Linked DNA regions of Homo sapiens: region 2 is linked to region 1. The links come from fine-mapping of genetic effects on gene expression. A gene starts in region 1. The other region holds a variant in brackets. All regions are shown on one strand. Distances are from middle to middle.

Region 1 (8,814 bases):
GAGTCTCTGTTCCCACTTTCCTCCTTACCTGAGGTGCCCTGACTCATTTCTGCCTTTCTAGATCTGCCCATCCTTAAGACCTGTTGAAGTTCCTCCTCCAACCCTCTCCTTCCTCTCCCACTCTTTTCCCTTCTCCTTCTTGCCTATGAAGCCTTTCCTGACCACCTTGAAACCCTGAAGGATTTCTCTTTCTCCCAGGATCTCCATGTGCACCCCTCCAGCCTGTACACTAGTGTTGGCTTTGGCCATTTTTCTTTGGGAGGAAAGCGGCAGGGGTGGTGGAAGTCCTTCAGAGAGCAACAGGTAGGTGACTCAGGACCAGCTCTGCCCCTCTGGGCAGACTCACTGACAGATGGAGCACCAGATACTAGGGAGTCCCCTCTGACACAGGCTAACAGAGGAAAAGCCTCCCTTGCTTTACTGGAATACCAAATCTGTCTCTTTCCCATGCCATCTGCCCATCCCAGGAATAGGATGCTGAAGGGGAGAAGGCTCTGGGAGCTTTCACAATCCTGAGTTTGCATAAAGAGGAGAACCCAGCAGCCAGTCAGAGTCAGAAAGTTTTGTGTAGAAGAGAACTTGAGGACCACATTTGTCCAATTGTCTCATTTTGCAGATAAAGAAACTGCACTTGATTTAACTCCAGTGTTCCTATTCGAAGGGGCTTCAGACCTTCCAGGGACAAAGCTGATCTCAGGACAATGTTTTCCCCTGAGTGGCACTCAGAATGCCCCTTTCTGACCACCCTGGTGACCTTGCCACCCCAGCTGATGGGACAGGACCTCTGGGTTCTGTTACTCCTCTTGAGGGCTCTGGTTCCCTCCTGGCCTTGGTTTCCCAAGAATATGATGGCCAGAGTTGCAAATCTGCAGCCACAGGAACTGCCCCAGCTCCTGCTGAGAAGGCGCCCTCAACATACTTCCTAATTCCAAGAATAGGGGTTGAGGTGGGGTGGGACGTAGAAGACAAGGGTACTTCATCCCCAGCCAGCCCTTCAGGTGAGGGCAAGAGGTGGAGGGAAGGGGGATGGGAGTGGTGGAAAAGGGTGGGTGGCATGGTGGGGAGGAGGAGTCTCAGAGAACTAGCAGGGATGGGAGTCCCAGGGAATCCTCAGAGAGGGTGTCTCACGATGCCAGATGCTACATTAGGGGCAGGAAAGTGGAAGAGGGAGCAAGAAAGAGAGCCAGGTATAGGGAACATAACAATCTGATCCCCAGTTAAACAAACAAACAGCCATGATAAGTGATGTCAGCATCGCTGGAAAAAAAAGTCAAGTGCCCTATTGCCAGAGGCGTGTATCTACAAGCCCTGCCCCCACCACCCCTCCACTGCCTTCCATCCCCCTACCGGGCCAGGGATAAATAGCAGGTGCCATGTGATAATACTGAGAAACAAAAGGGTGACCCTGCCCCTCCTCCACTGTGCAGGGAAGGGGGGCAGGTCCTAAAGAGCTGGAGGGACTTAGAGGGGGTCTGTAGGGTTTAAGGGGAGTAGGGGGTGAGCCAGGAGAGCAGAGGGCAGGAGATGTGGGTGCATGGGCCACTCCCATGCACTGGCAGGAGAGTGGGTCAAATCTGGAGCAGAGGGGATGCAGGGGTCGTGCGAGCCGGAGTAGCTGGGAGAGGGGAAGCAAAGAGAAAATAGACCCTGCAGGGAGGGCACAGGCTGGAGCAGATTCCCTCTTGAGATTCTCCAGGATTTCTCCTCCAATGAGCTCATGCCAAAGCACGCCCCTGGTACCTTCTCCCAGTCACATTTCTAACCAGGTCTCTGTCAACACCATCCAAATATTGTAGGCAGAGATGGGCTTGGGCAGAGATGGGCTCAGGCAGAGACAGTGCCCGAGTGGATGCACTGAAAGGCTCGGAACGGCACCTGGCCATGGGAAGCATGCAATAAACTCCAACTATCATCATTACTGCTATGACTCCAGAGGAGCCTCTTTCTTGCTCTGCCATCTCTAGTGGGCACTCTGCCTTTTTTTGGCTTGCCTTTTTCCATCTGCCCCTATACCTGCTGCCCCATGCCTTAACCCCTCCAAATTTTCCCAGGACTTGATGAGAGGAACAGCAGAAAATCTTGTCAGAAGAGGGTAGAACATCTGCAGAGCAGGACTGTGAGGGGTCCATTTGTGGGTTTTGGTTGGATCTGGAGGTGATCCTGTCACTGTGGGCCAGGCTGACTTCCTCCCTCAGTCCTGTCGGGGGTGTGCATGTGAGGGAGGGGGTTTTTGACGCATGTGTGCCAGGTACGGGAACAGCCCCGGCTGGGCCAACCCACCCTGGCATCCTTATCACTGGTTCCTAGCCAGCCGGTTGCTGTGTTCTGGGAAGAGGAAAGGTCACCTTGAGGTTTCCCCTTTGCTCTAGCTGCTGGTTGCCTCCCTGCCTCATCCAGGGTGGGGGCCACAGGGTAAGAGCAGCCTCTGAGTGACCCAGGTGTGAATGTGAGCTGGGACAGACAAGCTGGCTGGGGTCTCAGTGGGAGACCACATCCATGGCAGGAGGAGGAAGGATGTAGAGGCCTCTGCACCCCTAAGGCTTTTTTGTTTGTTTGTTTTGTTTTTTTGTTTTTGTTTTTTGAGGTGGAGTCTCCCTCTGTCACCCAGGCTGGAGTGCAGTGGCACGATCTTGGCTCACCACAGGGTGCACTTCCTGGGTTCAAGCAATTCTCCTGCCTCAGCCTCCCTAGGAGCTGGGATTACTGGTGCGCGCCATGACACCCAGCTAATATTTTTTATATTTTTAGTAGAGACGGGGTTTCGCCATGTTGGCCAGCCTGGTCTCGAACTCCTGACCTCAAGTGATCTGCCCTCCTTGGCCTCCCAAAGTGCTGAGATTACAGGCTGAGCCACTGCGCCCAGCCCCCCAAGGCATTTTTAAACACTCCTTTTCCTTCTACTGTCCCTGTGTTTCCAGGGCAAATCTCTCCCTACTCCTCACCCCAGCCTAATTTCCTCCTCAGTGTAGGGGAGGATGAGATGTCCCTAAGGTGTCTTAGAGACTGCATCCCGTGTAGGAGAGAGATTCACTGATACCACCCCCCAAATCCCCACTCCTTATCTCCAGGCGAACTCTCCCTCCTCTGCACTTTCCCTGCTGGGAATGGGTGCTGGGCTGAGGAAATAGGCTCCAGAAAGAGGGACCAAGGCTAGACTTTGAGAATCACTTCCTAACAGCAAGACTGACAAGGTCATGGGCTCCCTGGAATGGGCACTTGAGGTTAAATTCCTAGAAGTCTTTAAGGAGACTGGGGTTGCTTTCACTTGGAAGCAGGGCCTGGGCAAGGAGACCAGTGAAGGGCCCAGCTGCTCTGGTCCCAGAAATCCAGGCGAAAGCCCAGAGAGGCATCCAGTGAAGATCAACTCCCCTTGAAGGGGTGGCTCTGCCCCTTCCATCTTCCAAGTAGTGACCCCACAGCCCCCAAAGCTTGGTCAGTGTTGAGCTGGTCCTCGATTCCCCCAGCAAGTTCACGGGGGTCAGTCTGGCTGTTTAGTACGGTTTAAGAGGCACTCTTGAATACTGGGTATATGCCAATCTCCGGAAGACTCTGGGCATTAAAAGATAAAGAGGAGTCCGTCTCTGCCCCAGGGTTTATACAAATGAGACTCAGAGAGCAGGTGGCTAGCTCTGGGAAGTGCCTGGGAAGGCCTTCCTGGCAGTGGAGGTGCTCTTGGCCATGCTGGTCTCCATGCTGCCCAAGCAGGGTCTTGCCAGGTTCTGGATGCCAGGGCCAGGATGAGGGAGGTGGGGGAGGACTGTGGGGTTCTGAGAAAGGGTCATCTGCATGAGTGAAGCCACTCAGGGGGAAAGCCCTCTCTCAGTCTGCCCACTTGGGGGGCTGCGTCACTCCAGGGTCTTCTGGTCCTCAGACCCGTGGGGCCAAGTGTAAGGGGGCAGTTGATGCTGGAATAATAGAAGCTTTGTTAGGTCTCAGCTGGGGACCCTCTGGGCTGGTTTTGAGGAATGGGGGCACTGCCTGAGAGTGGCTTGGAACCCCTTGGAGCTGCAGGATGAGGGGTTTGGAGGCTGAGAGCCTGGAGAGCTGGCTGCCCATCCACTGTCCTGGCCCAAGCCCTTCTGTGTTGAAGCATTCACCATTGAGTCGGGCGTCCCAGGTCCAGCTACCGCCCACCCGCCTGCCTGATGGAGCTGGTCCCTTGCTCACCCTCTCCCACTCCTCAGTTTCCTCCCCCTCCACCTCTTCCAACTTCTCAGGACTAATGGGGACACATGGGATTCTGTGTAGTCCATGCTAAGTTCCCCGAGCTGGTGGAGAAGTACATGAGTGAAGGAGGATGTCTGGGCGGTAGAAGGAGGGGGAGACAGCCATGCAGAGTAGGCTGGTGAGTCAAGCATTAAGAGCTTTTCCCTCCAAGACTTGAAAAGAAAGGGAGAGGAGCAGCCCACAGCTTCAAAGGCTGTCGCGGAGGAAGGTCTAACATTTTCCTTTCCCTCGGAGGCCTTTGCCTCGCTCTGTTTCGGGGTCTGGCGACCACCACACCCTCACCCTACTTGCTCCCTCAGTCAAGCCCAGCCTTGCAGCCCAGGTCCTTACATAGACGTGAAGACCCAAAGGGCTCCTCAGAGGGGAAGGGCTGGGAGGCTGCTCTCAGACTCCAGGGGCCAGAGTGTCCTTCCTACTTGTGCTCAGCTTGGCAGTTGGTTCCTGTCATCCCTCCTCTCGGTACCCCTGGTGACTGCCCTCTTGCAGGGATGACCCCAGCCCAGTGGGGTGGGCTGGGCTGGGTGGGGCTTACCAGTGGGTGAGCAAAGCCGGCTGGGCAGGGCTGCAGGTGTGTCTGGGGAGCGGGCAGCCGAAAGGTGTTCCTGAGGTGTGTGAAAGGGCTCTGCTCAAATAATCCAGGGAGGCGTTTATAAATAACTTTTCCTCAGGGCCACGGGGTGAGCCCCGGCTTCTGATTGGCTCAGAGGGGAAGTGGTTTTGAACACTACACCATAGCTAAGCCTGAGGAGATAGGAAAAGGAGATAAGGGGGAAAAGGTCCCAAATGAACAGCCCTTTTTTTGTTTTACCTGGGGAGCAGGGCTGTGTGATGGGAGCTTGGCACTTCCTAAATCCACCCCGAAGACAATAGGTCACATTCAGCGGGGCTCCTGCCCCACCGGCTCCCCCAAGGCGGCCCTGGAGGAGGGGGACGAGGCAGAGGAGGGGGACAAGGCAGGACAAGCTCCTCTGAGCTTGCTGTCCTGCTGCTTATGGGGCTGGGGGTCAGGCCAAAGAGCCTCTTGGACAATGGGAGCTATTGAGGCCACCTGAGGGGTGTGCTCTTGGGGATGCTTGCTTTGAAGATTGGAGATCTAGGGGGTGGGAAGACAGTAGTCCTCTGAACACCCCTGAGGAAGGGGAAGAACCATGTCTGGGAGGCCCTGGGAGCCTTTAGGCGGTTTTGGTTTGTGGTGGAGACCTGGTTCCCAGTTCTGTCCCCAATGTTAAGTTGCTTGTGAGCTCTGTGCCTTGGTCTATCCATCAGTGCAATGGGGGAAATTATTCCTGGCCCCTCAGGTAGTGTGCAAAGAGAACACAGGGGTTTAGAATCTGATAAAAGAGCTCAAGAAACTGGACTTAGAACAATTATATGAGAGGCGACCTGAAGGCTAGCAAATCTCCAGTCACAGCCCTCTGCCGCTTCTAGGAATTAATGTCTCCCTGGGTCATGGCACTGCTCCGGCTGCTGCCAGCAGAGCTGCCCATCCCAGGCCCATTGAGTGCTACGGAAGGACCTCAGAAAGCAATTGTGGACAGGGGCTGGGAGGGTGGGTAGGGGAGTTTCTTAATTTACTTCCTGGGAGGGAGAGTCACTACCCGACACCAGGTGCCCATTCTTTGAGACATCAAGTGCTGCACTGTCCTCGTCCTCAACTGTCCTCCCATCTCTCCAAAAGAAACCAGAGGCTCTGAAGTGGGCTGGAATCAGTGCAGGGGGCTTCAGTAAGGCACCTCTGGAAGTTGGGGCGAAAGTTCCCCATGGTGAAATGAGCTAGCTTCAGTACTTAATAGGGACTCAATAAATATTTGTTAAATGAATGAAAGAGTGAATTGTCTGCAAGCCCAACCCAAGGGATAGTTTGTAGATGCATTGCTTGTGGGGACTAGGGAAACACCCGAGGTCACTCAGAGTTGTCAGGGTGTAGCCAGACAACTGGCTGAAGAGAGCCAGAATTCAAGTGACCCAAGTGTGCCCTGACACCTGGCTGAGGGAAGGATGTGTGCATGGACACTGCCTCGGGGAGCCCTTCCCCAGACCCCTATGTGGACTTAGCTGACATGTTGCACATTCGTTCCTCTGGCTTCCTCTGCTTCACTCTCATAACACTGACCACAATTAATGGTAATTATGTATGGAATTGTCAGTCTTTCTGCAAACACCGTGAACTCCCTGAGGAGGGCAAGGGGGCAGTGCCTCTTTTGTATCCCTACCCACCTAGCCCAGTGCCCGGCACTTAGGAGGAGCTCAATATAGATTTGAGGAATGAATGAACAATTGTATGATAGAGTCTTTAAACAAAGCAAAGCCAGAGGGCGAGAATTTGTCCATGCATCTTCAGTATTGTCCAGTGTCATGGGTAGCCTGACCTGTTCTAAACTTTGCCCAGGAAATTCCTAGAAAGCAGATGAGTCATTATGTTCTTCCGATAGCCAGGTGACAGTGGCTATCAAGATCAAACAACTAAGTCCCCTTGCTGAGACACCATGTCCACCAGGGAATCTTCTGGTTGTATGTCCTTTAGGGCAGAGAATGCACTGCCCAGCTGGTTGGAGCGACTAGGGCTGCTTTTGCAGGCATGCTTCTCTTTTAAATGACCCATGGACATTCTGGGCTACCCATTGGTCCAGTGTGAGTTTTATTAATGTGAGTTAGTATCCCCTGAGTCTGACCTAGTTTCCACAGTAACACTTGGTTTTCCCACAGGTGATTTGGTTTAATTCTTATACCAAACATATAGGCATGTTACTGTCATTTTTTGATGAGAAAACTGAGTTGACTGAAGTGAAATCACTTATCCAAGATCACAAAGATCTGAATGGAAGAGGCAGGAATCTAACTTGGCTAAAATGGCTTCAAATCCTCTGCTTAGTCTACGATATCATCTTAACCTTTGAGCCTGCGAAGCTAAGGATGAGATCCTACAAAAGACCATACCTTTTAGATACCATTAGGCTCCCTTGCTGGTATAACTCCTAATGTAACCTGGATGAAGACGTCTGGGGCCTCCAGGATACATGCTGGAATTGGAAACTTGTTGTTTGTCCTCCTCAAAACTTTTCTACTGTCTCAGCAAAATTCTGGGCAGGTAGCCCTTGCATTATAGGGGCAGTAGGGATAGACGAACCCAGAGATTCCTCTGAAGTCACCAAGGAAGATGGACAGGGGCCTCAGAATCTGGGGCTGGTCATTGGTGGGAGGCCCAGGAAGGAGGAAACCAGATCAGAGGCTAGGGAAACAGAAGACAGAAGGGGGAGTGCCCCGATGGCTGAAAAGGCATCTTAGGGGTATCTTGGGTAGAATTAAAGTGTGGACAAATTTAGGGTTGGTGGAGGGAACACAAAGATATGGAGAGATAGGTGACAGAAATAGAAACACAGAGAAAAATGATGGAGACAAAGACTCAGAAACAGAGAAAGGAGCCAAGGACACATTAACAGCCATAGCAGCTCAGCCTAGAGTTTTGCTAAATCATTTGTGTTTCATGATGAAAGCGATGAACAGCAACCCTATGCCTCTCTCTGGAGCAGGAGAGAGAATCCTTCGGAAGCAACCTACTTCACCCCCAGCCCTAGGGTGGGATGCTGCATTCATTCATTCATTTATTCATTCACTGGAAACCCCTTATCAAGTGCCAGGATCCTGTCCTGGGGAAAATGAAATAAATCAGACACAATCTCTGTCATGAAAATATCTCACAATCTGGTGAGGAAGACAGGAAGGCGAAGAAACCATTGTAGCATGGAACATAGGGTGCTATGGGAGTACAGGGGAGAGGTGCCCAGATCAGCCCTCCAGCGGACAGAGAAGGAGCCGGGAAGTCTTCCAACAAGAGGAGGGCAGGAAGCTCAGTCACAGCTGTAGCCTGGACACCTGAGCTATAGACCCCAGGTGGGGAAGGACTCCCAGGAAGAAGTAGGATGGCGGCTGCCCCTGAAAGCACTGTTTCTAGAAGGGATTTCCAGCTTGTTCCCAAGTCCTCTTTGACTTCTGAACGCACCCAAGATTCTCTGCCTTAAAGCCCATCCCTGTGTTCCCCTGTGATCCAAAGCTTGCGACCACACACACACACAGTCACACTGAACAGTCACACGTAACACTGAGTTATGCAGATAAACCCAAAGTATTCCTAAGGTTCCCTCCTGACACATCTCACCTCTGAGCTGATCTTGCTAAGAAACAGCTATTTTTCAGATGAGCAAACTCAGGCTAGACCTGCAAAAAGGAGACAAATTCTGCCACCTCTGTCTATCCTTGAGCCTCTGGTCTTATCTGCACCTGCTGGCTTCTTGCACGTGTGCCCTGTGTGGGTGCCAAGGGTGTGGGCAGAAACATGTTTTGGGCAGAGCAGCCCAATGACTTAAGCAAATACCTTAAGGCTAAAGACAGCAAAGTCTTCACCACCCTGCCCTGCAGTGGCAGGATCTGGCCTGGCCCTGCGCGGCTGCCAGTTTCATGAGTGCTTGAGGACTGGTGGGACTGCAGAGGTACCCAAGGAGAAGCGAATCCTCACTTCTCTCCCCTGGGAAGCCCAGGGGCTCAAGTACCCCAGCTGTGAGTATCTTAGGCTGGTCAGGAGACATGGAA
Region 2 (8,814 bases), 25 kb before region 1:
TTACAAAACACTTACACATGGAACCTATTTATTTTCAAGTCAACAGTAGGGTTCCTCTCAATACCTCCTTGTACATATGGAAAACTTAACCCCTATTTTCATCTTCATAGGAGAAGATGGCCTGAGGTCCTAAGGGTGTTAAAGAGTCTTCCTGTGCAGGAAGACCCAATCTGGATCAGCCCCTTTCCACATCTGCATGCAGTTAGGGGATGTAGCGGATCCCTGGAGGACTTCCACCTTTGCCTACAGAAGGACCCCATTGTGTCTCTGGGCCACAGGCTGATAAGGAAGAGTTAACATGATTGGCTCTTTGCCAGGTAAAGAAGGATAAGGCAGATTTACCAAAGGGAGGCATTTCCCTGATGGGCCCTGGGGTCAAGGGGGACTGTCTGGGCCCAGGTCCCATCCGTTTTCCCTGTGTTGGTACTAGCACCCTCTTCCCCTCTGAGTCTCTGGGTGCAAAGAGGAATTCCCAAAAGTTTTGTGCAGAATAACTGGTATCTATTACTAGGATGCCAGATGATTCTGCCAGCTACCCATCCCCCTCTTTGGGGTTTCTAGCCAGCCTCCAGGGGAAGGGAGCAGCCTCTGAGGGCAGTGATGTTTCAGGAGGCTGAGGCAGAACCTTAGTGGGCTGTCCCCGGGGAGGTAGCTCTGGTGGTCTCGACGGTCCTGGCCACTGTCCAGGCTAGAGTCTGATGTGCTTGCTGACAGCAGTGGTGGTTTGGGCAGCCTTGGGGATGATGGAGGGGGGGCGCATAGTTACCAAGGCCTAGACTCCTGGGTGTGGAGAGCACATGGTCCCTGGGTGCAGAGCTGCCAGAGACAGAGTTGAGGCAGCTGGGGAAGGCAAGCCAGAGTCCTAACCAAGTTTATCCCTATGTCCGTGACAGCCTGACACCATCTGACACCGAGCCGTGTGGGCTCTGGGACACTTTTTGAAGCTTGTACAGCAGGCCAGCACAGTTGTACTTGTCCTTCTGTTTTTGGCTCACTCGTAAAAGCTGGAAGTCAAGGTGTCCTTCAGCTGCCAAGGACAGGGCAGAGGTGGGTGGGGTGGAGTGAGCAGGAGGCTTGTCCATTGCGGCCAGGGCCTGACGGGTGAAGAGTGGGCTCACCAGACTCTCACTCCTGTAAGGGTAGCACCCCCCTGCTGCTGAGAGGCTCTCTCTGGAGATGCGGGGAGGGAAGGAAGGGAGGAGAGAGGGGGAGAGGAGAGAGGAACCCAAGCTCTGGGGGATGCACTTTCCTCCGCCCGACACCCCCTGTGACCCCAGGCTCATCCTTTATGGAAGTCCCAAGTGCCAGGCACTCTGTAGGCAGCATGAGGACTGGCTGAGCCCTCACAGGGCGGTCAGGGTCTCTGCGTGAAACATGCTCCCGAACATCTCCTGCAGGAACCACAGGAAGGAAGTGGGAGGGGAAGAGAGAGGTTAGACCAGTTGGGGTCACAGTGGCTGCAACCAAGAGGTGACCCTAGGAACCCCTGGCCAGAACAAAGCACCTGTGTGTGTGTGTGTGTGTGTGTGTGTGTGCGAGAGTGTGTGTGAACAGGGGAGAGGCAGGGTCAGCCTAGGAGGTGAACCAGTCCAGCGTGGCAGGAGCAGGTGCTGAAATCTACATGTGAATCACCTCCTGTGTGCTGTGTGACCTTCCACGTGTCCCTCGCCCCCTAATAGCTTCACTTTCCTCATTGGGTAAAATGAGGGTTGGCAGTAGACAAGCTCTGAAGTCCTTTCTCACGTTGATAAGCTATTTTGGTCCTATCCAGGCTTTTTGGAATGTGCTGGAGATTCCAAGAGGGCACCGAAATCAGTCTGCCAAATCTCTGTGGCTCCAGCTCTATTTTCTAATCTGTCCCACCTGCCATCAGCACTGTGAGAGACGGATTCAGAGCACCATGGAGCTCAATGTCAAAAAGAATGGGAAGAGGCACAAAGAGAGACACTACTTCTCATAGACCCAAAGCCAGATTTCTCCAAACCTAGTCATCTGGTTTCTTTTAATTCAGGGCATTGGTGGGGTGGTGTTAATCCAGGGGCCCTATGGGGATGGTGATCCCTCATATCCACATATCTTTTAGGTTTTGTTTTGTTTGTTTTTGAGACAGTCTAGCTCTGTCACCCAAGCTGGAGTGCAGTGGCACGATCTCGGCTCACTGCAACATCTGCCTCCCAGGTTCAAGTGATTCTCATGCCTCAGACTTCCGAGTAGCTGGGACTACAGGCATGCACCACTACGCCTGGCTAATTTTTGTGCTTTTAGTAGAGACGGGGTTTCGCCATGTTGGCCAGGCTGGTCTCAAACTCCTGACCTCAGGTGGTCCGCCCACCTCAGCCTCCCAAAGTGCTGGGATTACAGGTGTGAACCATTGCACCCAGCCACATATTTTTTAGTTCTTAAGGCTTGTCCACATGCAATAATAATTCATTTGTAGACCCAGAATCCATCTATTCTACCATAACGTAAGTTTCTAAAAGGCAGAGGCCTTTGTTTTGCTCACTGCTATGTGCCCATCCTGAACTGTGTCAGGCAAACAGTAGGTACGCCATAAATACCTGCTGAATTAATGAAAGAACAAGTGACTGCCCTGCCAATCTTGTGTGGTGGATGGGACAGGTATTACCTATGTTTCCCCTAATTTCACAGATGATAAAAACTAGGGCCCAGGGTGTATGTGGCTTGCTCAGGGTCACGTGGGTGATGTGTTGGAGAATAAGAATAGATACTGGTTCTCTAGGACTTGGTCCAGTGACTCACCCTCTCCCCACGATAACTTTCAGGGAGTGAGAAGAATGAAAACAAAGGCCAGGCATCGTGGCTTATGCCTGTAATCCAGGCACTTAGGAGACCGAGGCAGGCAGATTGCTTGAGATCGGAAGTTCGAGACCAGCCCAGCCAACATGGTGAAAAGCTGTCTCTACTAAAAATACAAAAATTAGCTGGGCGCAGGCCTGAAGTCCCAGCTACTCGGGAGGCTGAGGCAGGAGAACCTCTGGAACCCGGGAGGCAGAGGTTGCAGTGAGCTGAGATCATGCCACTGCATTCCAGTCTGGGTGATAGAGTGAGACTTTGTCTCAAATTAAAAAAAAAAAAAAAAGAAAAGGAAAAGAAAAAAAACAAAGATGACCACAAATCTTTGTGGCCTTGAATGTGACTGCTCTGGGCTGGAGGTGAGACAGCTGAGTGAACGCCTTGTATTTGACAGCGACCCCATCCTTCCCCTCTTCGCCCTGCTCCCACCCTCACAGCCCCTTCCCTCAGCTCACCTGCTCTAAGTCCCAGTAGCTGCGAATGTCCTCCTCTGAGTCGTACAAGGAGAGCTCAGCATCCCCTGGAGCCTGGAAGGGAGGAAGCCAGTGCAGAATGAGCTTCAGTGACTGAACAGCAAAGTTGGTGCATGGTGGCAGGAAAAGGGACAGGTGGCCGGCTCTGGTTGGACGCTGCTTCCTGACACATGACTTATCCTCTTGCCCCTTCCCTTACCTGCCTCACAAAAACAGCACGGCTGTGGTCTTCCCCCTTATACCAGACAGGTGTGTATCGCGGTCTTCCCTCCTTTGTGGGCCGTTAGAGGCAGGGAAGGTTTTACTCAGCTTAGAAAAACTATTGGCTAGCTGCCTGACCTTGGGGAATTCCTGTCCTCCTGGGAATATATTTTCTAATCTGTTCAAGTCTGATAACCAGCCTCACTTTGCCTGCTTTGTCCCTCACAATGCTGTTGAAAAGGTGTGTGTTTATGTGTGTGATTTGTATCTGTGAATGGTCTATAATATGTAAGTATATATTATATAAAATATAAATTATTTATAAGTCTATGACTAATCAAGTATACATACCAACTAGAGTAGCTGAACATGATTAGGGCACTAACAACTAATGCAGCTTCCTCCAGAATCTCCCTCTTTGCTCTGCGGACAAATTCACGAAGCAGGAAAGCCCGTTGTTTCCCCAGGGTTTCCCTCTAGGCATGGAGGGCAGGAGCCAGCGCCCTGTGTGTTCCTGGGCAGTCTTTCAGCACTTAGAACAGATGGTTTCACCTTCATCAGTCTCTTAAGGCAAAGAGCAAATCATTGCTCTAGGGCCAGAA[A/T]AGCCTTTCTTATGACCCACAGAGGGCAGGGGAGGTTTTTACCCAGGGCTGGGGCACAACAAGAGTCTTGGGAGGCCAAGGGCAGGAGCTGAGCTGGGAGGGGACCCTGAGGGCTAGAGATGACTGGGGATCTGGGCAGGGACCCCAAGGAGGTAGGCTTTTTCTGACTCCCCAGTCTTCTGGAGTTTTAGATGGTGTTATTTGTATCCCATTTGTAACTTACTGAGCTAGTAAATTAAATGTCAAAAAGCTGAGACAAAACTCAGACCCAATCTCTTTATCCCTCACCAGCCTGAAATCTCTAAGCTCCGGTAAGTTAAAATGGGTAGGCTTACTCCCCTCCCCTCCCTTCCCGAAAGCCCCCTTTAGAAAGAGATGAGGAGGAGGCAGGGAACGATGCCAGCAGAGTGGGCCTGCTCTACTATGCTTTGGGTGTTTGTGCAACCAGAAAACTTATATTGATAAAGAATTTTTACAATACACAAAGTGCTTTCAAGTGACACAAAAGATGTAATTATCATTTAACCCTAAAACAAAATAAAAGAAAAATGCAGAGAGGTAGGTAATGTTAGTTGATGGTGCTCATTCTATAGATAAGGAAACAGATTCAGAAAACTGAAATGGCAGACTTGATATTGGAACTTAAACCTTCTCCTGTGTTCTTTCTAATAATGCCTCTTGGTCCTGCTATTTCAGTGCCTTGGAGCCTAGGATTCCCCAGGTGCAAGAACCTTACCCCTTGGAAGTTGTGTCCTGGGGTCACGTCTCTAGCATTTGCCTGGGCAAAGAGGACTGCGTCATGTATGCTGGGAAAGACGTGCTTGCATTCTAGACTCCCATCCTCAAAGACGCCTCCATGGCTAATGTCATTGTACACCTGGGCTAGAAGGAGAAAAGATCACCTTCAGAAAGATAACAGCCATTGTGGATTGGAGCTGGGGGTGGGGAAGATAGTGAGACCAGAGCAGGGATGGGAGAGGCCTGAGGTCCCAGCTCTTGCTGTATCTGAGGGCCATGGCATTGGCAGTGCAATATCAGTTTTGGACGGCAGAGGGCAACATGAACTTGAGGATGCTGAAGTTTCAACCCAGAGCAGAAGGAAGCAGTTTGATTTAGGGAGTCAGTACTTTGTGGTGATTCGAGTGGAAAAGCCTAAGCCATCCTTGAAGAGGCCGCTGCCAGTTCTATCCCCCAAGGACCCATCCTTCCTCTTGTTTTCCCAGACCTTTCCAGCAACTTCCAATGTGTGGCATTGGAAGTTTGTGTGGATTACTCTTAATCCTAGAGATGGTTTCCTGAGGGGGTGTCCAGTGAGGTTGGGGAGAATCCACTGCTTCTAACTCCAGAACATATCATAGCAGGTCATTGCCACTGCAGATTCTCTCCCCGAACGTGGCCATGCGGAGCTTGGGAACTGCAGCCCTGCTGGAGGGGGTCTGACCCAGTGCAGGGAGCTGGGTGTGTGTGTATGTGCCCCTTCACATTCTCCTGTGTGTCTGTGTGCACTTGCTCCCACATCTCTGCACTTTGCGTACATGCTAGTCATGTAAATGTCTGCTGCCCTGTGGCCACGTCCTTGAGGCTGTGTATATGCACCCTTTGGAGGCTGTATGCCTACAAAACTGCATATTTATATGTTCCCTGGGGAATTAGGGTACCGTGTGCTCTATGCCTATATCGATTCACAGAGTTTCTGATTGGGAGAGGATCCCCAAATCCATCTAGTCAACCCTCTCGTTTTACATAGGTAGAAATAGATCCCTTGAGAGATAAAGTGACTCGGCCAAGGATACGTGGCAAATTAGTTATGGGGTAGATTAGAATCCTAGCTGTCCTTCTGTAACTCCATGACCTCCTCACCCCCACTCTGTCACTAAGGCCCCTAGGATGTTTATGCAATCTGACCAGTCTCTTTGGACTTGTACCTGAAGCTTTTATGAGCAGGCAGCAGCTTGTGGGGGATAGCTGGGTGCTCTCGTTTCCAACCTCCTCACTATTCAGACCCCACCAACCTGTTCCTACCCCACACTCCTTGCCAGTCTTTCAGTCCCTAAATGTCCTCTTTCTCTTACCATGGATGTTCACCAAGAAGACCTTCACGCCGATCTTCCCATAGGTGGAGCTCAGCTAGAAGTGTTGTTGGGGTAGGGAGGCAAAAGGAAAGGAATGTTCTGAGTGGGTCTCAAAAGTGATTCACAAAACGTACTTCAGAGGGGAAGCCAAACAAATAAGCAACCCTGAGAGCCCAGCAGCCAAAGACAAAAATAGCAGCAAAGCACACCACTTCTCCCTGGAGTGTTGGCTGACGGTTTCTCTGGGAAGTGGAGCGGAAATGGACTTTTGCCAACGTGGCGGGCACTTAAAGTCACCATGGCCCCTTCTTGTGGGGCTAGATATTTTCTTTTTTTTTCTTTTGAGATGGAGTTTCACTCTGTTGCCCAGGCTGGAGTGCAGTGGCGTGATCTTGGCTCGCTGCAACCTCCGCCTCCTGGGTTCAAGCAATTCTCTGCCTCAGCCTACCGAGTAGCTGGGACTACAGGGGCCCGTCACCACACCTGGCTAATTTTTGTATTTTTAGTAGAGGCGGGGTTTCACCATGTTGGCCAGGCTGGTCTTGAACTCCTGACCTTGTGATCCACCTGCCTTGGCCTCCCAAAGTGCTGGGATTACAGGAGTGAGCCACCACGCCCGGCTGATCTTTTCTTTCAGTAGCTTAGATTCTCAGACTTCTTTGTGGCTTCAGACAGAAGCTGCAGGGGAGGATGGAGGCTCAGGGAGTCTAGAGCTTCAGCCAAGGCTGGCCTGGACTCCAGATCCTGGCTAAGGAAGCCGGCTGAGGCCCAAGGCTGGGTATGGGGCCTGCCCTGCGCCTGGTTGATGGTGAAGGCAGTCCGAACACTCTCTGTGCCCATTGTTCCCCTGGCTTGCCTCTATCTGAGCCAGCTCTGAGGTTTGCTGACTCCCGCCATTGGCGGTGGCTGCTGGAAAGTTATCAGATGGATACATTCATTCAAGGTGTCCCGTGGGCTCTCTGTTTGGCCTGATGGTGTGGGGCACTGGTATTATTCCTTCTCCTGTCCTAGGGTGGCCGGTGAATGAGGGACAAGGGCAGCAGATCATGAACCAGGAGCCAAACCGGACCCTCCTCAGAGAACCTGGGTGGGTTCCTGATGGCTGAGAGGGACTTGGGATGGCCACTGCTGGGGGTGTTGGGAGCACAGGGGCCTGAAACTCTGGTAGACTTGTCCCGCCACTCATTGTCATGGGCCGTCTGGGCCTGCTCTGTGGAGAATGTCTCAACCTGGTGGCGTCTGGGGAAAGGAGGGATTCCTAGGAGCTGTTAGTCTCCCCAGTGAGCTTCCTCCCTCAGCTTCCTGAAATGAGGGCTCCCAGGAAAGGGAATGTGGAGAGCAGAGCGGAGGGGGTGGAGTGGGTGGTGCTTGCTGTTCCCGAGGGCCTCACCTTGGCCAGGGCCTTGATGCCCATCAAGTCCACGAAGCTGACTCCACTCATGTCCAGGATGAGGGTGTGGAAGGTGACGAAGGGTGGGACGCTGGCCAGCATGTCACTGGGCTCGCCGGGGGCCTCAGCGGAGGCTGGTGGCTCACTCTGGGCAGGTGAGGAGCTGTCAGGGCTGAAGGTGATATAGGACACGCTGGTGCCGTTAGCCGGGGTCTGGTTGTTGTTGGGGTCGGTGGGGGGCGCATTCTCAAAGTCCTGCTGCAGCTCCTGCAGGGAGACAGTCTGGAAGGGTGGGGACAGTGGGCAGAGTCAGGGACCACCAGACTGAGCCAGACCTTGCTGTGACTGAAGCAGGGGCATGGAGGGTGTAGGTGTAGGGGAATAACTCGCCTCGGTGATGGTGAACACAGACCCTGAAAGCTCCACCAGAGAGGCCTCTCCCAAAGCCCTTTCTTAGGCAGGGCCTGCAAACTTGGTCTCCTACAACCCAGACAAAGTCAGAGGACCCAGCCAAGAGAGGCACTGAAGCCTCAAGCCCACTCTCTCTGGGAGAAAGCCCCTCCGGGGACACTGAGCTCCTTTATTTCTTGAGACAGAGTCTCCCTCTGTTGCCTAGGCTGGAGTGCAGTGGCACTATCTCGGCTCACTGCAACCTCTGCCTCCCGGGTTCAAGTGATTCTCGTGCCTCAGCCTCCTGAGTAGCTGGGATTACAGGTGCCCACCACCACGCCTGGCTAATTTTTGTGTATTTTTAGTAGAGACAGCGTTTCGCCACGTTGGGCAGGCTGGTCTCGAACTCCTGAACTCATGAGAGTGATTCTCCCATCTCGGCCTCCTAAAGTGCTGGGATTACAAGGATTACTGCCATGGCCACCCCAGCCTTGCTAGCCCTGGGCTGCCTGGGTTCCCCAGGAAATTCACTGCTGTTCCCCCTCTGGGTTGTTCAAAAGTCCATGGGCCATGTCCTATCTTAGCCAGAAAATGGAGAAGGGCCTTGGGGGTTCAGTGGCTTCCCTGGGAGATGGTAGCACCTCATCCAAGAAGAAAAATGCCCAGGCTGGGCGCAGTGGCTCAGGCTTGTAATCCCAGCACTTTGGAAGGCTAAGGTAGGTGGATCACCTGAGGTCAGGAGTTTGACACCAGCCTGGCCAACATGGTGAAACCCAATATCTACTAAAAATACAAAAATTAGCTGGGTGTGGTGGCACCTGTAATCTCAGCGACTTGGGAGGCTAAGGCAGGAGAATCGCTTGAACCCCAGA

Direction of the effects. Alleles are on the strand shown, and positions count from the first base shown. SD is a standard deviation of normalised expression in the study named.
For the expression in pancreas of the gene that starts at base 4,851 in region 1, allele T in region 2 goes with a higher level than allele A (small effect, 0.31 SD a copy in GTEx).

The links.
Region 2: its variant is fine-mapped to the expression of SLC26A9 in pancreas (GTEx, PIP 0.95).

Annotation. Positions count from the first base shown.
Region 1 is chr1:205,938,606-205,947,419 of GRCh38, forward strand. It overlaps SLC26A9 (solute carrier family 26 member 9), which reads right to left and starts at 4,851. Exons shown (of 21, transcript NM_052934.4): 1 at 4,760-4,851. All of the region lies in intron 2 of SLC26A9-AS1 (SLC26A9 and RAB7B antisense RNA 1), which reads left to right.
Region 2 is chr1:205,914,014-205,922,827 of GRCh38, forward strand. SLC26A9 (solute carrier family 26 member 9) reads right to left here. Exons shown (of 21, transcript NM_052934.4): 17 at 7,553-7,834; 18 at 6,163-6,217; 19 at 4,827-4,972; 20 at 3,270-3,341; 21 at 1-1,391. The coding sequence ends at 1,344. Among named protein-coding and RNA genes, the nearest start is that of SLC26A9-AS1, 16 kb to the right of the region's middle. RefSeq lists enhancers at 6,020-6,551, 6,552-7,082. The variant A/T (reference allele first, on the strand shown) is at 4,091.